3 linked regions of the Homo sapiens genome follow. The protein of the gene in region 1 purifies or fractionates together with the protein of each later gene. This does not show direct contact. Each region holds a gene or a part of one and is shown in the gene's direction. Other genes may lie near its edges.

Region 1 (6,002 bases):
ATACCAGTCTCTGTTTTGGGAGGTGAAAATAAGAGATGGGAAGGAATTCTGTGCTGTAGCAATTTATAATATGACAGACACACCCCTTCCAATCAAAAGATTCTTGTAAAGTACTATTAGGCTTGTGGTTGTTTGATCTCTTCTTTCTCCTTGCCTACCCATTGCAGAATTTTAAATTATTGAATTCAGAGAAACTTCTAATTATTCCTATAACAACAAGATGAATTTATATACACATTTAACAGTTTATTATTTATCTTTCACAATAAGATGTTTTCAGGACTTTGAAATAAATTAAATACTATTTTAAATGTTCTAAAAAGTTTTACATTATATAAGAAATCTTGTATAATCTTATGGAAAACTGATCCTAGATCTTATACAATTCATTCTTGTGTTTTAAGTGTTTTGTACTGAGACTCTTTGGGATCTAGTTTGCCTCTATAACTGTTATAGCTTAACAAAGTTGAAGGGAAAAACTGCCAGAAGAAATGATTGACTCAGAGTGAGCATTGTATACCTATCCTTGCACAGACTGTCTTCTGGTCTCCCATTTATCATCCATTTTCAGTTGTCTTGGTCTTAGTGTTTGCTATCTGTTGGGCCCCGTTCCACATTGACCGACTCTTCTTCAGCTTTGTGGAGGAGTGGAGTGAATCCCTGGCTGCTGTGTTCAACCTCGTCCATGTGGTGTCAGGTAAAACCTTAGCTGGATTTGGTGCATGACTAGTATTCAGGTAACAGCACCTTCTTCTTCATCTTGCTTAGATGCCTAAGTACTCCAATTTATCACGGGGATCTGCCATGCTATAATGAAGACATTTGATTTTTCTTTTATTCAGAGATTGATTATGTTTGATACTGTTCCAAATACATATATACCAGATCACTATTTTCAAGGCTACTTTATGGAAAACCTCAAGTCTAACTGTGATGATTACAGAAGGAAAATGGTCAAGGAGTGATTCCTTTGGTTATCCTCCAAATGGCCATGCAATTAAATTGGTTCTTATTTAGTAAACACCCATGTCCCTGAAATCTCATATTGCCTTTGGGAAGTATTATATCCTCATGAAGGAAAACTAAATGGTATTCATAGGTAATCAAGTTCTCCTTTTAGGCTACTGTAACTCTGCTTGTTGAGGATACCATAGTATATTGTGGAAACCATGGTGGAAAGGTCAGTAAGTCAGATGACCTGGATTTGCAACCCAATTTCACCATTGCTATTCTGAGTGATCTGGAGAACGTGGCTGCCTTCACACCAAAGTTTCCTCAACTGTAAAATGGCAAAAAAAAAAAAAAAAAAAAGCCTCCTGTACACAAACCATGGACTGATGGTAAGGAGCAAATGCAATAATAGACATTAAAGAGCTCTTTAAGCTGTAATTGCTGTATATCTTTCTATAATCATCACAAGGTCATTAGGTGGATATTATGATTAACATTGTATAGTCAAAAATAAAACCCTTCCACAAGAAGAAATGATTTGCCCTAAGGCACTTAGCTAACAAATAACCCACCCAAGTCATCTAACTTCAAGTTCAGTGTTCTTTCTACTAAAATGAAGCAAAGAATGACCACCTAGTTTCTTCTTTCTCAGTCAGTGACAGCTAACTCAGTGTTAGCCTTAGGCTCAGACCTCTTCTGTCCCCCCACCTCTCCTGGTCACCGGCTGATTCTATGGGCTCATTAGATTATAGAAGACATCACCGGAAAGGAAAGATAAGATCACCTTTTACAAGTTAAGCTCCAGATGTGTACAAAGCAGAAACAATGACATCTATACTGAATATTGTGTATACTATGTATTTTCTGTCACCCTCTTTTTTGTACTCAGCAGGCCTAATGTATAGCTTATTCCTGGACATTAGCACTTTCCTGTTCAACCATTTGCAACCAAAGCTCAAAAATATGTATACCTCTTAGTTTATCCTTTTGGTTAATCTGCGGAAAACAGAAATGTTTAAATAAATGAGAAAGCACTACAAGGTCAAATGAGACTTGACTAATTGACTACAATTCTCTGGATGCGTCAAGGCAATTATCTTAAGATTTTCAAGTTATAGCCTCAATAATGACATGATCCTGTTCAGATACCATCTCCCCCCTTTTATATTAGCCACTAGATTAAATCTAAATCTCTTAAACCCTACAGAAAATACCCCCAACTTGCCTTTTAATCCTCCAACTTTTATTATTTTTATTCATAGACCATATACTTATCAAATTGGTAATTAGAGAGTTCTGCACATTATTCCTGCACAATATGGCCATTCCTGCCCCTGAATACTTATGCGTGCTATATACCCTGTACCTGCAACACCCTCTCCTGTCTTCCTCAACTATCTCTTACCCATTTTGAGGCCTGGCTAGAGTTCAATCACCCCCCACTAAATCTTTTATGATTATCACAGTCCTTGTGTTTCTGTTATTATGTGAATTGCTATAGCATGATTTGTTATCTCATATTTGTTCTTAACAGATACTGCTTGGTATTGTTGTATTGTTAATTATTTAACTTAGCCATAAATCTTGTCTCTGCAGTACCATTCCAAGATCTTGGAGAACAAAGTCTAATTCACTACCTCCCAATGTGCTTTGAAGTTCATGGCACATAATAAGAGTTAAATCAATATTTATTTTTTGAATGAACTAATAGTATTAATGCATAGAAATATTCTCCTTTAACATTCTTCCATGTTTATTCTGTAAACAAGGCATATAGCATTCTGAATGTTCTGAACCACATAAATAAGGACAACAAGGAACCTTTTGGCAATATTACCCATCACTTGTTTTACATTCTTAGCCATTCTCAACCTCTCTGTGGATGGTATCTTAACTTTACCCTCACAATAATCCAGGGAGGTGGGTTAGGCTGGAAATCACATTCCCATTTTACAGAGAAAGAAACTGAAGTGCCAGGGTTTGTCTAAGGCCACAGGATATTAGAGGGCCAAGATCAGAAACTAGGTCCTCTGATTCCCAAACTTGGGCTGATTTTGGGCTTTAGAGAAATAAAATTTAAAAAGGCAATAAAGGAAGAGTGTATTCCAAACAGGAAAATGACAATGTGAAGGTTAATTGGTAGAGGAAATAAATGGTAAAATACAATTCTTCAAAAGGTGGAGGAACCATCAAGGGAAAAGGGTAGGTAGGAACAGCACGCTAGGGAATATTTCTTTGAAGCCGTATCTTAGCATTATAAGGAGTCTCAGCAGGAACTAAGCCTTGGCTGATTTACCTTCTTCCACTACTTGCAATCCCAAATTATAGATTTAAGTAAAATTCCAATGAGATAGAAACGTTTCTCTTCCCTCTGATATTTAAGCATCTTTCAGTCATGTTATAGAAACATGTTCTTTAATTAAACAAGTAGTGATCAAAGAAAGTTGCTGAACATCTCAGAGAGATCCCATGTCAGCCTAACTTACTCCAAGACTCTTTAATCTTTGTGTTTGATGGCTAAGTGCACAGGTGGAAGATCTATTCAGAGCATTTTGTATTCTCAATTAGATGCTTGTATGTATTATCACTTATAAAAGAGGCAATCACAGGGATTCTAGGCCTTTGTAAATATTTATGCTTCTTCCTTCATGCCGGTCACTTAAGTTCTTCTCAGCACATCTTTTTAAATCCCCTGCATTCCAGGTGTCTTCTTCTACCTGAGCTCAGCTGTCAACCCCATTATCTATAACCTACTGTCTCGCCGCTTCCAGGCAGCATTCCAGAATGTGATCTCTTCTTTCCACAAACAGTGGCACTCCCAGCATGACCCACAGTTGCCACCTGCCCAGCGGAACATCTTCCTGACAGAATGCCACTTTGTGGAGCTGACCGAAGATATAGGTCCCCAATTCCCATGTCAGTCATCCATGCACAACTCTCACCTCCCAGCAGCCCTCTCTAGTGAACAGATGTCAAGAACAAACTATCAAAGCTTCCACTTTAACAAAACCTGAATTCTTTCAGAGCTGACTCTCCTCTATGCCTCAAAACTTCAGAGAGGAACATCCCATAATGTATGCCTTCTCATATGATATTAGAGAGGTAGAATGGCTCTTACAACTCATGTACCCATTGCTAGTTTTTTTTTTTTTAATAAACGTGAAAACTGAGAGTTAGATCTGGTTTCAAAACCCAAGACTGCCTGATTTTTAGTTATCTTTCCACTATCCTAACTGCCTCATGCCCCTTCACTAGTTCATGCCAAGAACGTGACTGGAAAGGCATGGCACCTATACCTTGATTAATTTCCATTAATGGAAATGGTTCGTCCTGAGTCATCTACGTTCCGAGTCAGGCTGTCACTCCTACTACCAATGGCCACTGTGAGCCACAGAAGGAAGACATGTACGTGCTGTTCTACTTTATATGATGTGAGAAGCCAACATCAGTGTCCCTTGGCAGCAGTCTACAGGCATAACTTGTTTTATTGTGCTGAATTTTATTGTGCTTCTCAAATATTGCACTTTTAAAAAAATTGAAAGTTTGTGGCAATGCTGTTGAGCAAATCTGCTGGCATCTTTCTTCCCAAAGGCATGTGCTCACTTCATGTCTCTGTATCAATTGTCATAATTTTCGCAATAAACTTGATTATTATTATATGTGCTTATGGTGATCTGTGGTCAGTGATCTTTGATATTACTATTGTAATTATTTTGGGAAACCTATGAACTGCTTCCATAGAAGATGGAGAGCTTAATAAATATTGTGTTGTTCTGACTGTTCCACCCACCAGCCATTCCCCATCTTGGTCCCTCTCCATGGGCCTACCTATTCCCTGAGACAAAACAATATTAAAATTAGGCCAATTAAGAACCCTGCAATGGCCTCTAAGTGTAAGTGAAAGGAAGAGCGGCAAGTCTCTCACTTTAAATCAAAAGCTAGAAAGGATTAAGCTTAGTGAGGATGTAAAAAAACTGAGATAGGCTTAGAGCTATCTATGCCTCTTGTAGCTTTTAGCCAAGTTTGGAATACAAAAGAAAAGCTCTTAAAGAAAGTTAAAAATGCTACTCTAGTGAACACATAAATTATTGTAAGAAAACAAAACACCCTCATTGCTGATACAAAGAAAGTTTGAGTGGTCTGGATAGAAGATCAAACCAGCCACAACATTCCCTTAAGCCAAAGCCTAATTCAGAGAAAGGCCCTAACTCTCTTCAATTCTATGGAGACAGAGAGAGCTGAGAAAGATGCAGAAGAAAAGTTGGAAGCTAGCAGAGGTTGGTTCATGAGGTTTAAAGAAAAAAGCCATTCTCTATAATATAAAAGTGCAAACTGAAACATTAAGTGCTGATGTAGAAGCTGCAGCAAGTTATCCAGAAGTTACAGCTAAGATAATTGATGAAGTTGGCTACAGAAAAACAAAAAAGATTTTTAATGCAGATGAAACAGTTTTATCTTGGAAGAAGATGCCATCTAACTAAGGCTTTTATACCTAAAGAAGAGAAGTCAATGTCTGACTTCAAAGCTTCAAAGAACAGGCTGACTCTCTTGTTTGGGGATAATGCAGCTGGTGACCTGAAGTTGAAGCCAATGCTCATTCACCATTCTGAAAATCCTAGGGCCCTTAAGAATTATGCTAAATCTACTCTGTGCTTTATAAATGGGGAAACAAAACCTGGGTAACAGCACATCTGTTTACAGCATGGTTTACTGAATATTTTAAGCCCACTGTTGAGACCTACTGCTCAACAAAAAGATTCCTTTCTAAATATTACTGCTTATGAATAATGCACCTATTCACCCAAGAGCTGTGATAGAATTGTACAAGGATATTAATGTTTTCATGCCTGTGAACACAACAGTCATTCTGAAGCCCATAGATCAAGGAATAATTTCAACTCTGAGAAATACATTTCCATGAGATGGTAGCTGCCATTGATAGTGATTCCTCTGATGGATCTGGACAATGTAAAATGCACCTTCTGAAAGGAATTCCCCATTCTAGATGCAATTAAGAACATTAGTGATTCATGGGAGGAAGTCAAAATACC
Region 2 (7,884 bases), about 13 Mb from region 1:
TGTGCCTCGGGAAATAGATTGTCTTGTTCTATAGTGACATCATCTGGTCAGCTGCAGAACAGCAGTAACTGGTTTTTGAAGGATCAGTAGAATTTAAGGTTTAGATGAACTCATTATCACACCATGGTAGAGTTAGAAAGACTCTGTTAAGCTGTTGATAGGATTGCTGGACCCTGTGGGTCTCGGAGCATAGTATTAATAATGGGGATCAAGTGATTATTTTCAATTTTTTTGTTTTTGTTGAAAATAGAGAAATTCCTTGTAATGCTTTTTGCGTATAGATTATAAACTCTGATAGGATTTTTAAAAATTTCTTCAATTAATTCTTTCAGTTGATTCAGTTCCCAAAGTTTGGTCCCCAGACCAGCCATCGTCAGCATCAACAGGCAACATGTTAGAAAGGCAGATTCTAGGGCCCCTCCATATCCATTGAATTAGAGGCTCTGGGGGTAGGACCAGAAGTCTGAGTTTTAAAAAACCCTCTAGATTATTCTGGTCCACACTGAAGTTTGAGAATCACTAGATTATCTTTTTTGTTAATAATGAATAATAAATTATTATTCATTATTATAATTTAGTGGGAAAAAAACCTTTTAAAAGTAGAATTTATTAGACAATATATAACAGGAAGAGTCTTTGTCAGTGATCACTGTAGACAAGACCATCATTCCAGGTCAATCCAGGTCAGTATTTCCTTTTTTGTTTGTTTTTGTTTTTTGAGACAGAGTCTCACTCTGTCGCCTGGGCTGGAGTGCAGTGGTGCAATCTGGGCTCACTTCAACCTCCACATCCCTGGTTCAAGGAATTCATGTGCCTCAGCCTCCTGAGTAGCTGGAATTACAGGCGGCACGCACCACCACACCCGGATAATTTTTATATTTTAGTAGAGACAGGGTTTCACTATGTTGGCCAGGCTGGTCTCAAACTCCTAACCTCAGGTGATCTGCCCACCTTGGCCTCCCAAAGTGCTGGGATTACAGGCATGAGCCATCGCGCCCGGCTAGTATTTTCCTTTTACAGAGAGCGAAGCTGAGGCTGAAAGAGAGGTTTCTTTTTATTGTTTTTGTTTTCGAAGCAGTCTTGCTCTGTCACCCAGGCTCCCAGGCTGAAGTGCAGTGGTGCAATCTTGGCTCACTGTAATCCCCTTCTCCCAGGTTCAAGCGATTCTCATGCCTCAGCCTCCTGAGTAGCTGGGATTATAAGCATGTGCCACCACACCTGGCTAATTTTTGTATTTTTTAGTAGAGACTGGGTTTCACCATGTTGGCTGGGCTGGTCTCGAACGCCTGACCTCCACCTTTCTTGGCCTCCCAAAGTGCTGGGATTACCGTCATGAGCCACTGCACCTAGCCTTCATAGAGAGGTTTTTGCCATCAGGCCACACTGGCCTGATTCCCTCTGTTTCCCAGCTTCTCATGTTTTTCCATATGGCACTTTAGCTTTCTTTCTTGTGAGGCCAGCGGGGTAAGCACGGACCTGCTCTGTAAGCTCCCCCAAAACCTTAGAGTGAGGGGAGAGCAGTCATGGCTTCAGCTCTTACTCTAATTAGAGAGGATCAAAGGAGAGGGCCGGAAAAAGGCCAAATAAAATATAGCCCCTTTAATGTAGAATTTGTCCAGTTTGAAGAAAACCATTTCTGTCACATTGTTTTAACTTGAGTTTGAGGTCCCTTCTATGTTTCCTTATGGTTAGAATTAGTCAGCTCAGTACTCTTATTAATGTTGCTAAGCACCAGATACCTTTGGATGTCTTGGACCCACAGAGAGTTAGCTCTAAAGCATCATTGAAATCTTTTGTCTGAGTTTCTTGCAGTTCTCAGTTAGCAGCTATGTGCGAAGTACTTTTTATCATGTCCAAAATATTGCTTCTAGGTTGGTGTGAGCTATCTGTTTTTTTTGTAAATAATTTGCTATATAACATAATCAGTTCATTCAACCAGCATTTATAATAGCCTACTCTGTCAGGTACCATACTAGATCCTACACAACGTAAAAATTGTTTGTTTTAAGCATTCAGCATTCTACTTTTAGCACAGAGAGCAGTATAAGAGAGGTGAGTCCTTTAAGAGAATAAACTATGCTGAAGCTGAATTCATAGTATGAACTTGCTTACATAATACAATTATGATGATGTTATACTTACAACTTTGCTAGGGAAATAAGAAGTGTTGGGTATATTAGAAAATGATATCTGCCTCTGCTCTATGAGCAGATGATGATGATGATATCTGTGAGGGCAGTGCTAAGAGTAATATTGCCAAATATTATGAGCTCACATGAGCCTCTCTCTCCTTGTTTCAGGACCTTGGGCTACACCATTTCTAGAGAAACTCAGAACCTGCAGGTGCCTTACTTTGTGGATAAAAACTTTGACAAGGCCTACAGAGGAGCTTCTCTGCATGACTTGGAGAAAACAATAGAGAAGGATTACATTGATTATATCCAGACTAGTTGTTGGAAGGAGAAACAACAAAGTAAGATACTGTAAAAGGGGCATTAGCTGGTGGCTGTGGTTCCCAGCAGGAGGCACCCCCAGCCTCCTGATCCCTCCTCTCTTCTTGTTTGAGGCTACGCATGTTTATGTGAACAGAGTCAGAGGACAAAGGCCATTCAGGATACTATAAAAAAGTAGGGGAAATTTATTGACAGGATACATGTGGCCAGGACTTGGAAATCTTAGGAATTTAGGCGGCACTAGTCACCTGTCTGTATGTCTGTCTCTCTTTGAGTCTCTACCTCTCTCTGCCAATCTGCCCCCTCTCCTCTCCCCACCAGCTGCCTTCCTTTCTTTCTTCCAGCTTCCCTTTTGCATAACCTTGTTTGCCATGGTTTACAGTGGTTGCCACCCTGCTTATCACTCTCTCAAATTCCCCAGTCTCACCAGTCAGTGCCCCTTTCTGCAGCACACACGTCTGTAAGTTCTTGGTGCTCGCTGATTTGGTCCACAGTTTCCCAATTCCACACTCCCTAGAGGGAAATCTGATCGAGCCAGCCTAACTTTTTGAAACAGAACAAAGGTTTAGAGGTTTCTGGTATGGAATGAGGTGTCCCCTACCCTCACCTCCAGCTGGTTGTGGCCACACAGAACAAAAGCGACCCCTTGGGTCTGCCCCTTTGGGTGTGGCAGGCCTTCCCCCCTATTTCCCTCTCTGGAGACAGTGGGGATGATAGCATCTGCCACTGGCTTACAGCTCCAGCAAGTGTTACTAGGAGTGTCTGCAGCAGGGGTAGCCCCGTCTCAGCCAACAGCTTCACCTTTGGTCCCACTTGAATTCTACACACACATACCGCGTTAGTGACTGTGTCTTCTAAAACTTGGTTTTGATTATTTTTATTTTCTTTTTTATTTTTCAGGAGGTACCCTTTTAACTGAAGTTTTGGCTCATGTTTAAAAAGCAAATTCTGACTCATTTCTAAAGCCTTATTACTGAGTATCATTAAATACCTAATGGAGTCTGATAAAATTAGCTCTTCAGTCACAGTGCTGCTAAGCCCTCATTGACCATCACACACTCCCAACCCCGCCCTCAAGTTAAGCTCTCCTTCCTCTGTGTTCTTAAAGCACTTTGTTCAGCCTGCTAACATAGTACCAATCACACAGTGTTAGAGTTCCAGGGATATATGTCAGTCTCCCCTGCAAGACTATGGACTGTCTGGGAATAAGAACTTGGTCTTACTAATTTTGTGTCCCAGGGTTCTGGCACAGTCCTTGCTTCAGAACAAGTGCTCAACAAATGTCTTTTGAAGAGAGGATTCTCAGGAGTAGAAAACAATGAAAATGCTGAGGATTGTGAATAACAACAGCAGGGTTAGTGTCCTAGCTCACCCTTAGGGACCTGGTCTCTGCCCCCTATTTCTGTACGGCAAAGTCCTAATGTTCTCTCAAGGTGCATTAGGAAGTTGGTGAGCAATGACTCTGGGATATAAGAGGAAATTAAACAGGAAGAGGAAATTCCAATTTATTGAAAAACACTGAGGATTCAGGAAATACTCTACCCCATTGCTAAACTAGATTTTACAAGAATCAAAAATCAGGAAAGAATTTTAGAGCAGGATAAAGGCCTCATATTAAAAGGCAGTATATAGGCCAGGCATGGTAGCTCATGCCTATAGTCCTAGCACTTTGGGAGGCCGAGGCAGGAGGATCACTTGAGTCCAGGAGTTTGAGACCAGCCTGGGAACCCCATCTCTAGAAAAAGTATAAAAATAAGCCAGGTGTGGCAGCACATGCCTGTGGTTTCAGCTACTCAGGAGGTCGAGCCTGGGAGATCAAGGCTGCAGTGAGCTGTGATCACTCCACTGCACTCCAGCCTGGGCCACAGAGCGAGATCCTGTCTCAATAAAAAGGCAGTATATACATGGATCCAAATCAGGTGAAAGCCAGTGTATGTCCTGAAAATCCCCATTGTCTGGGTCCTGGGAGGGCTTTGACTTTGTTGCTTTCTGCAAGAACTGGATGAAAATCTGCATTTCACATTCTTCAAACACCCGCCTGCCCCACATCTTCCTCTGTGGCAGTAAGATGCTGGAATTATACAAAGAGCTCATGGTAAGGATTGCACCAGAGGTAGTTTCTCAGCTTTTGTCCCCATCCCCATGAGGCCTAGTTCAGAGCTTCGGCACTCTCCAGGTATAAATAAAAATCCAGTGAGTGGCCAGGTGTGGTGGCTCATGCCTGTAATCCCAGCACTTTGGGAGGCCAAGGAGGATGGATCACCTGAGGTCCGGAGTTCGAGACCAACCTGGCCAACATGGCGAAACCCCTTCTCTACTAAAAATACAAAAATTAGCTGGGTGTGGTGGTGCGCACCTGTAATTCCAGCTACTTGGGAGGCTGAGGCAGGAGAATCTCTTGAACCCGGGAGGCGGAGGTTGCAGTCTGCTGAGATCGTGCCACTGCACTTCAGCCTGGGTGACAGAGCGAGACTCCATCTAAAAAAAAAAAAAAAAAAAAAAAATCCAGTGAGTAAGCATGATGCGTGTACCCACAAGTTCCAAATGGCAGTTATCAGCACAAACCCCTTAAAAATCTATTTCTGGCATTTAAGTACAGCGGCTATGCAGAGCCTCCACACAACCCAAGTGCCATTTGAGAACAAGCAGCATCTGCCCTCCGAATCCAGCAGCAAGTGCAGCCAACAAGGTTAAATTTAGCACTTGGAGGTTGTAAAAATAAACCCACTTGAGAACAAAGTTCACTCTTGGCAAAATACCAAATGCAAACTGTTTTTAGCAAGGTTAGCCATTGACTTTTTAAATCTTTGTTTGGTTCATTTATTTTTCTCTGCTCTTCCTTAGAATGTTTAATCTGGGTGAAAATTTTTTTTTTTTTTTTTTTTGACAGAGTCTCGCTCTCTCGCTCAGGCTGGAGTGCAGTCATGCAATCTCGGCGCACTGCAACCTCCACCTCCCAGGTTCAAGCGATTCTCCTGCCTCAGCCTCCTGAGTAGTTGGGACTATAGGTGCATGCCACCGTGCCTGGCTAATTTTTGTAGTTTTTAGTAGAGACGGGGTTTCAAGGATGTTGGTCAGGCTGGTCTCGAACTCCTGACCTCAGGTAATCCGCCCACCTCGGCCTCCGAAGTGCTGGGATTACAGGCGTGAGCCACCACACCCGGCCAATCTGGGCAAACCTTTATGAGTAATCCCTTACTATAAACACTAATTGTCCTGTTTACTTCTTCGCAGCTGCATCTAGATAGTAAGCCTGATGCCAGGGCAAGTGGCCACACCACTAGGCTGGGCTGGACGAAGGTAGCAGGCAGGAACTGCCTCTTGGCCTAGCTGAGCTGAGCTGAGCTCCTGGCCCAGACTGGTAGAGGAGCACTTCTTTCCACACCCTTGAGCAGGATAACCTAGTGGGTAGAAGCTTAGGCTTTGAAATGGGGATAGAATCCACTTCCTCCTAGAGAGGTTGTGTGGGTTATGGAAGATGGTATGGGTGTAACTCTTAGCACAGTGTCTGGCACATAGAAAGTGCCTAATTTCTGGTGGAGTCCTGGCTTTACCTGGCTTTGCACTGTAGACTGGATGTAGCACCATCTCATGGGGCTGGATCATGAGGGCAGTTGGGATCTGTTGCGGTCTTTCAGCTGTTGAGACCAATCTGGGCTCTTTTGCAGAGAACCTTAGGAGAGGTTCTGGGTCTTGCTTCTCTTGGCAATTTGCCTGAGTCAGTTTATCTTTAAGGCTCAATGCTCTGTCCATCTGTTACAGTGGCATTCAGAGGAAGGGGAACTTTCTGCTAAGAAGAAAAGGTATTCTCTGGAACCTGCCACTCCCCAAAATTTTTTTTAATTACTTAGAATTTATTGAATATTAACAGAATTTGTCAAAAGTAGCATATTCTTCAAGTTGACCCTTTGTTCATTGAAGGATGAAAGGATTCACTGGCAGTTTGGAGAGAAGTTGCTTTAAGCTTGGTAGTGGGGATGTGGGACATGATTCCTTGAAACACTGACCTTGTACAAGGTCATTGCTCTGGAGCAGGGGTCTCTGAGCTGGTTTCAGTGAACTTTATGAAAAGCAATGTGATATTTTGAGAAAAGCAGTTATCTTTCATCAGCTTGTTGAAGTGGCCTTCAATGTAGAAAATATAAAGAGTCACTAGCCCTTAATGTTTCCTGGAACAAGATTTCAGGGAATGAAGCATTTAGAAAAGCTGAGCAAATGGAAAACCTGAGGAAATCATTTCAAAGAAAAGCAAAACCACAGAATCTGTTTCAATACTGGTGTAACTGTGACTCCAGAGGACTAAAGGCATAGACTGACTTCACAGAGGCCTCCTGGGCAAGGTTACCCACATGCCAAAGTAGCCTGAGATTGGAGTTAGTGCCGAGCCCTGGGCAGGATGCAGGAGCAGAGAGCTTTCATTTGGATATGGCCCATGATCCTCCATGACGCCCCATCACCTGCAAGGGTGACTGTGCCAAGGCAAGCCCTGGCTAGCAGGCGCTGCAGGCACCCTCACCAAGCAGGGAGAGCGCATTGTTCTGGAGCCTGGGAGACCCACTGCTTGCCAAGCAACTGCTGGGCTAGAGCCCAGGCTGTGCGGCCTCCATTGTAGAGGGAGGGTTTTTATGCATATCCATCCCTCACTCTGGAGTCCTGCACTTAATCTGCACTTTGGGCCTTACTTGGGGGTAAATAGCATCATTGTGCACAGAAATGCCAGACAGTGTTTTGTGTTGATAGAAACGTATTCAGAAAGCAATGCCCATTGTTCCCCCTGGCTAAATAATAATTCCGTTTCCAGGCAGTTTGCTGATTAATCAGACAGGTGTCTTTCGTTCCACCAAGAAAAACAAAATCTGTCAGCAAGATGATTAAGAATAGATAGGCATATTTCAAAACAATTAAAATAGCATTTTTACAAGTCTGGTCCTTTAAACATTGAGTAGCTGCCTGCTGTTGGAGGCTTTCAGGAAACACACACCACATCCAAGCATGCCATCCTGTTAATACGCAATACGTCTCTAAAGGTGCTCTTCAGGCATTCCTCCCTGAATATGTCTGAAACCTCACAAAAGAATAAAAAATAGAGGCAACCAAACCACTGTTGAGTCAGGAAACACAGCAGAGATTATATTCTGGTTAAAAATAGAATGACCTTCTCCACCATAAAGAGAAAATGAAATTAATTTAGTCAAGGAGACAAAGGTCACCGGATCCAGATGATTCAACTTTTAGAAAGGCCCAGCTGCCTTTGGCCTTTGAGTTGGGGACCCTACGTGTGGTGAGGGAATGAACAGCGCCAGTAGTGCCCTGGCCTTCTGTGGACGCACACCCGGCAGCAGTAGGCTCTGTGTGCCTTCGCACATGTGAGTTATGATGCAGCAATGCAGGAGAAGAATAAAGCAGCTGTCTGTTTCAGATGACAGGAATA
Region 3 (7,884 bases), on another chromosome or scaffold:
TAACACCCAATACGAATAGAGCAAAAGCACTAAATAGAGATATCCAGCCTTCTATAATTTTCAGGTTAAAACAACCTTCTCTTGCATGTTTATTTTCCTGTTTGTCTCTTAGGGTTACAGAGTCAGAGGTTCTAAATTCCAATCTCAGCTCTACTATTTCCTAGCTTTGTAACCTTCAGCAAAGCACATAACCATGTAAAATTTAATTTTATTCATTTGTAAAATGGGACTAATAAATCTAAAGTGCTTATCGTAGTGCCTGATACATAGTAAAGCTCAGCTCTCAATGAACTGTTGCTGCTGCTGCTGTTGTAGTTAAGTCTCCCCAGTCCTGAAGGGGTCATCATGAAAGATTTTTGGCTACCATCCCATCTCTTTCCTCTTATAGCTCAGAGCTCATTAATTATGTCCTGTATGTACCCGTTGCTACATTCTTCTTTGCTAACTTTCTCCTTGTTCCCTTTCTGTCTTCACTTACCAATGGTGGGCAGTGATGTAACGTTTACTGGGCAAAAATTAAAATCTTCAACTGATTTTTAATGCCTCAAATCCTCTTTCTAGCTTTAATGTTAGTTAGAAGTTCTTTATGAGGCCGGGCGTGGTGGCTCATGCCTGTAATCCCAGCACTTTGGGAGGCCAAGGCAGGCGGATCACCTAGGTCAGGAGTTTGAGACCAGCCTGACCAACATGGGGAAACCCCGTCTCTACTAAAAATACAAAAGTAGCCGGGCATGGTGGCACATGCCTGTAATCCCAGCTACTCAGGAGGCTGAGGTAGGAGAATCGCTTGAACCCGGGAGTCGGAGGTTGCAGTGAGCTGAGATCCCAGGTTCACACCATTCTCCTGCCTCAGCCTCCCGAGTAGCTGGGACTACAGGCGCCCGTCACCACACCCGGCTAATTTTTTGTATTTTTAGTAAAGACAGGGTTTCACCGTGTTAGCCAGGATGGTCTCAGTCTTCTGACCTTGTGATCCATCCGCCTCAGCCTCCCAAAGTGCTGGGATTACAGCTGTGAGCCACCGCATCCGGCCCAAAAATAATTTTTCTCAGTGAGTTCTGCAGTTATGCTAATAAGTATTTATAAAATTTTTAGAAATATTTATATGAAATTTTTTAAAAAGATCCTAGAGTTATTAACATTTCTGGCTGCGTGTCCCATCCTGGCTTTGCCAAGTAAGTATTAATTGTCCTCATAACTGCAGATGACTGATAGTGTTCCGTTATTTATATGGTTTTCCAGCAGTTGGAAACATCTTCTGTTGCAAAGGACAGTTTGGGGTTTAGTGCACATCTACCGACTGTTTCATGATAAGACAACTATAGAATTGAGAATAATCATTTAGAAACTTTTGTGGCAGTTTGACATTGCTACAGCATCCAGGCATGTGATAATTTTTCGAATAATTCATTTTTATTGCATTTTACAAAAGTTCTATTTATAATAGTTTCAAAGTTTTTAAAAAATAATACCTCACCACAGATAGTTTGAGAAGCACCTTTAACATAGGCTTCTTTTTCAGCTACTTTAAAAGATACTTTTTTGTTTTTAATTTTCTAGGGCCCTTTCTTTCATGGGAATGAGTATCTGTCTGGCTCTGATGTTCATTTCTTCCTGGTATTATGCCATTGTAGCCATGGTAATAGCTGGTATGATCTACAAGTACATTGAATACCAAGGGTGAGTGTGGATTTAATCTTGATCACTGCTAAAAGTAGCAAGACTAGCTAGTTTGGTTAGAGCCAGCTCAGTGAAAATATCTTAAGGACTCAGGTAACTTCATTTTCATAACTATATTTTGTACCCCTAATTCTTTAACCATCTTAATGATGCAAGCTTTTCATCACAAGGGAGATCCATTGAGAAAGTATGAATGGATCAATGGAAAATAACAAAGGACATTTCCAAATAATAATAATTAGTACTAAACAAAGTACAACACAAATGTAAATATTTTTGCTTATCTCTTCAGTCAAGGGGTTGTCTCTGAAATGAAAAAGAAATTAGTTCTGAACAACTTAGTAACTACTAAGACTTACAGCTTTCAAAAATGAGGACGAAATAACATTCTTATTCAGAAGATCACATTGAACTTTACTTTCTCTGCATTATTTTCAAAGTAACTTAAACTCCAGGTCTGTTATAATTTTCTAATCTAAATTGCTCTTTTACATTATTGTTTTGAACAATTACATAGAAGGACTGAATGAGTGACCCCTTCAGGCTTTATTGGGAACTGTTTGTGCAGTGCAGTCTGTTGGTGCTGTTGATCTACCTACATCAGGTTCATTATGTTAGTAAAGAACATTATGTAAATCATTAATCTGAGCTTTAATCTTCTACCTTGCACATGTGTGATTTTTAGATTCAGAAAAAAACTTTATTTTTTAAAATTATACTTACTATAGTTTAAATTTGTCTCTGCTCTTTTCTTTTTCTCACAGAGCTGAGAAAGAATGGGGTGATGGTATCCGTGGGCTGTCCCTCAGTGCAGCCCGGTTTGCTTTGCTTCGATTGGAGGAAGGACCTCCACACACTAAAAACTGGAGGTAAAGAAATCAACACTAGCAGTATTTGGCACATGGTTAACACACAAAAATATGTGTTTTGTTGATTTTAGGATAAGGAAACCATATGTGGCTCAAGGAATTGGTATAATGGACCTGTTTTGAACTATTCTAAATCCTTAATTTTTTTATTCCCTTTTCTTCATGTCGTTTATGATCAAGATTTCTACAATTTATTATTCTTCCTTGAAGACTGATCAACTTGAGATAGTACTGGGAGCATTCAAAATAATGCCCTTATCCTGTCATCTCCTGTGATCTCTTCCTTCTGTCAAATTACCTGTTTCATACAGATCTCCTGAATTAAAGGGTGGAGTCTGTCATTCTGTTCCCCAAACCCAAAATGTTTTCTCCTCCCCTCCAACCCCCACCAACCTCTTCACAGGCCTCAGTTGCTTGTATTACTGAAACTAGATGAAGACTTACATGTCAAGCATCCTCGCCTCCTCACCTTTGCCTCACAGCTCAAAGCAGGAAAAGGTCTCACTATTGTGGGCTCTGTCATCGTGGGGAACTTCCTAGAGAACTACGGTGAAGCTTTAGCTGCTGAGCAGGTAAGAGTCAGGCTTTTGAGGTATTGGAACTCAGTTTACAGCTTTGTGATGTTAAGTAGTAAGACCTCAAACTTCTACTTGAATCTTGTTCCTGAGTGATCTAGGAGGTTTCTCACTTAGTGCTGACCTTTGAAAGGACACTTTTTCCCAAATAATAAGATGAGCCAAAAATAGTTATTTATTATTTCTTCCTGTTTAAAGCATTACTAAATTATAAGATTATTAAGTCTAAACCTTATGTTCAAATATACTCCAAACATTAATCTAAGCACTGAGAAAAGTCATGTAAATAAATTGATCCCTTGAACTATGGAGAGGGTTCCTCTCAATCTTGTGACAACAAGGAGTAATGACCAAATTTTCTTCCTCTTTACTAATCTACGTGGTATCATGAGCAAGATTCCTTTGCCACTTCTGGTTAGCTGTATTGAACATTAAAGTTCTACTTTAACAAGGAAGTTGTTTTCACTCTAATACTTATTATATATGATAGAACTAATCCTATTGTTTTTGAAATGCCATTGTGTTCAATGGCATTTCAAAAGTTTTACTGTGGGGGGAGGGGGGAAGGATAGCATTAGGAGATATACCTAATGTAAATGACGAGTTAATGGGTGCAGCACACCAACATGGCACATGTATACATATGTAACAAACCTGCACGTTGTGCACATGTACCCTAAAACTTAAAGTATTTAAAAAAAAAAGTTTTACTGGATTTCATTTTGGAATCCTTTGAAATCCTAAACACTAGAAATGCTGAAGAAACATTACTCCAGAATGATGGTAAAAATTAATAAAAGGTACACAGGATTGAAAATCAGGAGAGCCTAGTTCTTAGCCGCATCACTGATTTAATCTGTGCCTTTGCAAAAATCATTCCATTTTCCATACCATTATTCCCAGGGTGGAGTAAGAGTAAATGAGATGATATCTCCAAATTGGTTTGACTAAATAAAGGAAGAGTAATGCAAATACAAGTGTCATGAATAATCACCATTAAAATGTCAAAAAGCATATGGGAATGGGAGAGGCGAAAAAGAAAACATACCTGAGAAAATTCTAAAGTGAAACTGAATCATCATACTGAGTTTCTGGTAAGATGAGTCAGGGCATGACTGGGGCTGAGGCAGGAAGGAGATCGTGTTCACAATAGTGAATCACCCTGGTCAACTGAGAAAGAATGTTGAATATTCACTTTGTAGAGATCCCTGTTCCCAGTTTTTTGGTATGGTGCAAAGGAACAAAAGCAGAACAGAGGAAAAAGCAGAGAAACTACATGTAGACAACCAGCTACAGAGGCAAAAATACGTAGTAAGCAAAAAGACAAAAGATCATGAAATTCCTTTGGGATAATTTTAACTTTTTGGACTTTTCTGTAGATGATATAGTATTATGAAGACTTTGGAAAAAGGTGGGGGATATAATATGGAGAAGGAACAATGGGTTAAAATGTCCAGAGTGAACCAGTTCAGTGTTGCGGTCCTGTGTCTCTTTCAGACCATAAAGCACCTAATGGAGGCAGAGAAGGTAAAAGGATTCTGCCAGCTGGTGGTGGCCGCCAAGCTGAGAGAGGGCATTTCCCACCTCATCCAGTCATGTGGCCTTGGGGGCATGAAGCACAACACGGTGGTGATGGGCTGGCCTAATGGCTGGCGTCAAAGCGAAGATGCCCGCGCTTGGAAGACTTTTATTGGTACTAACCATTTCTCATACAAACCTAAAGGCCCAAGTCGAGGGTATATAGTTAAATCTCTGTCACCCCCAGCCTCCTAAAGTAGAGACTATGCCATTGCTGAAGCATAGTCTTATAAGGCAACCTGAAAAACTATTGGTAGTAATACCCAGATTCTACCTACCCCCTTCAGCTTCACATTATGTTCATGAATTATTTCTGTCAAGTCTTGTGCTAGGAATTATCTCCAAAATTGCCGTGTTTTCATTTGTGATTTTCCATATTGATGTTCTCACAGGAATTGCAAGAATTGTTCTTCAGCATCATAATCTCTCAAATTCACATATCCCCCCTTAGAAATGTAGTAATGGGAATATACCTAGTAACATAAACTGTGGTTCTCAGTCTGTTAGCTATTCAGATTTTTCACAATGGTTTTTGATACGTAATGAGAAATAACCTACTAAGTAAATAGGACCCCTTGCTCAAAGAAGTGTGAAAAGAGCATTTCCTTGCTTTCCTGACATGCTAGGAAGCAAGGCAAGCCTAAGGATTCTTCTCTGCTTATTCTTTTTTCTCCCTAGGCACAGTTCGAGTGACAACTGCTGCCCATCTTGCACTGCTGGTGGCTAAAAACATCTCCTTCTTTCCCAGCAATGTGGAGCAATTTTCTGAGGGCAACATTGATGTGTGGTGGATTGTGCATGATGGGGGGATGCTTATGCTACTACCATTCCTACTGAAACAGCACAAGGTATTTTATACAACTTTTTTTTTACAAAAGTCTTTCTCCCTTCTGTCCTGGTTCACAGGACAGACAAATTCTTCCTCTGATTATAATAGTGTTGGGGTTTAGAATCAGAAGAGTTGGAAGTTATTCTAGGCTTTCCCATGATCCCACTTTCAAACAAGAGAAATCATTGTCTTTGTATTTGATACCTACTTATCTCCAAGTGAAATTCAGCCAATTAATAAAGTTCCATATGAGCCCTAGGGGAAAACAACAAGTGAACACATCTTTTTTTAAAAAATACTGAAAACTTAAGGTATATGTATATGTGTGTATTGCACGCATATATGCGCTCATTCCGTGGTAAGACTAATTAAATGAGATTTAAAATAGTAAATATATAGTCTGCATGTTGTCATTGATACACTGTCTGAATAAAGTACCCTCTTAACGTATCGTGAACCATCTTTTCTTTTGCCAGTGTTTTCTTGTTATGAAATTAAGGACTCCTTAAAACTGTATTAAATGTGGTGTTTAGTCAATCTTTTGCCCTAATACAATAACATAGCAAGTAGGAAGCTAGGAACAAATAGCCTTATACTACATATAGCAAGGTTCTTCTAGACCACAATGTCTAATGTCTTAGGAAATAACCTTTTTTGCCTCCTTGCTCTAATTTTTCACATGTGTATGTCACTCTCTCAGGTGTGGCGAAAGTGCAGCATACGGATCTTCACAGTAGCCCAATTAGAAGACAACAGTATCCAAATGAAGAAGGACCTAGCCACCTTCCTATATCACTTACGCATTGAGGCGGAGGTAGAAGTGGTGGAGATGGTGAGAAAGCTGAGTTTGAGATACAAGAGGTTCATTCCCCCATTCCTCTCCCTGTCTTCCTTGAATCTTTTCTGGTTTGGGAAATTTTTCAGATCTAAATGTGGATTAATCCCCTAGTGCCAAAAAAAAAACAAAAAAAAACCCTAATTTGTTGCCCTAAGTAGAATGTATATGTGATGCATGTTTGATGTTATTTTTTGGTTTTGCTTTCTTGTTTATTACACAGCCCTTATATTTCTGCCAGATTCTCATCTGCTTAATATAGTTTTATGAAATTTTTATTCATATATTCAGCTTAAAATCACACATGGCTTTTAAAAAAAACCTAACAGTATAAAAAAGAGAGACTGGAGTTTGTATTTTGTGTTTCAAGGCAACACATGTCTTGGTTAGATTATGGAAAAGACTCTCAGGGCCTCTGAATTTTATCTACAGTCACAAAAACATTTATGTAGCTCAATGACTAAACAAAGTAAGGGTGAAGCTTAGGTTAATATAGTGATGCTGTCCCTGGTTTAATTTAGTGACTGGAAATAAAAATGTATGGTTCATCCTTCTTTCTCCTTTGTGCTTTTTGCCCCTTTTATGTGATGTCTATGGCAGCATGACAGTGATATATCAGCATATACTTACGAGCGCACTTTGATGATGGAACAAAGGTCCCAGATGCTCCGGCACATGCGGCTATCCAAAACAGAGCGAGACAGAGAGGTGAGACATTACTGCATCAATCCAATCCGTGCTCTCTAAAGTCTGTCACTGAAAGGGATGATACTGGGCTGGGCATGGTGGCTCACGCCTGTAATCCCAGCACTTTTGGAGGCCGAGGCGGGTGGATCAAGAGGTCAGGAGTTCAAGACCAGCCTGGCCAAGATGGTGAAACCCCATCTGTACTAAAGTACGAAAATTAGCCGGGCATGGTGGCACATGCCTGTAATCCCAGCTACTCAGGAGGCTGAGGCAGAGAAGTGCTTAAACCCAGGAGGCGGAGGTTGCAGTGAGCCAAGATCACGCCACTGCACTCCAGCCTGCGTGACAGAGGAAGACTCTGTCTCAAACCAAAAAAAAAAGGGATGATACTATATTGTTTTCAAGGATGACAAATTCCTTCTCACTCTGTCAGTTATTCCACTATAACCCATTACTGCTTCAAAATAACCAAAGATGAAGCATAAGAGAAAATTTGGTAGAATAACTTGTGTTGGACCTTCTTCCTCAGGCACAATTGGTGAAAGACCGAAACTCAATGCTACGATTGACCAGCATTGGCTCTGATGAGGACGAAGAGACAGAAACCTATCAGGAGAAGGTGCACATGACTTGGACAAAAGACAAGTACATGGCATCCCGGGGACAAAAAGCGAAGTCAATGGAAGGATTCCAGGACCTGCTTAACATGCGTCCGTAAGTTTTCCCACTCCCAAGTTTATCATAAAATTACCTAATCAGTGGCACAAATGTGACTTTGCCTGGACACACAGGATGGAGTCTGTTCATTTCACCCTGAATCTAGCCACCTCA

What was found.
Region 2: the proteins of NMUR2 (region 1) and DNAJC18 purify together in Homo sapiens (affinity purification with mass spectrometry; 2 studies listed by BioGRID and IntAct, with this or other methods). This does not show direct contact.
Region 3: the proteins of NMUR2 (region 1) and SLC12A6 purify together in Homo sapiens (affinity purification with mass spectrometry; 2 studies listed by BioGRID and IntAct, with this or other methods). This does not show direct contact.

The regions. Positions count from the first base shown.
Region 1 is NC_000005.10:152,390,154-152,396,155, reverse strand, and holds the end of NMUR2 (neuromedin-U receptor 2), read left to right. Parts: intron 1-571; coding exon 572-697; intron 698-3,654; coding exon 3,655-3,965; 3' UTR 3,966-4,610; downstream 4,611-6,002. UniProt on the Homo sapiens protein: Receptor for the neuromedin-U and neuromedin-S neuropeptides.
Region 2 is NC_000005.10:139,414,642-139,422,525, reverse strand, and holds part of DNAJC18 (dnaJ homolog subfamily C member 18), read left to right. Parts: intron 1-2,300; coding exon 2,301-2,473; intron 2,474-3,933; exon of another isoform or gene 3,934-4,524; intron 4,525-4,809; exon of another isoform or gene 4,810-4,931; intron 4,932-7,884.
Region 3 is NC_000015.10:34,235,898-34,243,781, reverse strand, and holds part of SLC12A6 (solute carrier family 12 member 6), read left to right. Parts: exon of another isoform or gene 1-656; intron 657-1,560; coding exon 1,561-1,680; intron 1,681-2,444; coding exon 2,445-2,549; intron 2,550-2,952; coding exon 2,953-3,121; intron 3,122-4,621; coding exon 4,622-4,817; intron 4,818-5,380; coding exon 5,381-5,550; intron 5,551-6,231; coding exon 6,232-6,363; exon of another isoform or gene 6,364-6,392; intron 6,393-6,966; coding exon 6,967-7,074; intron 7,075-7,582; coding exon 7,583-7,767; intron 7,768-7,884.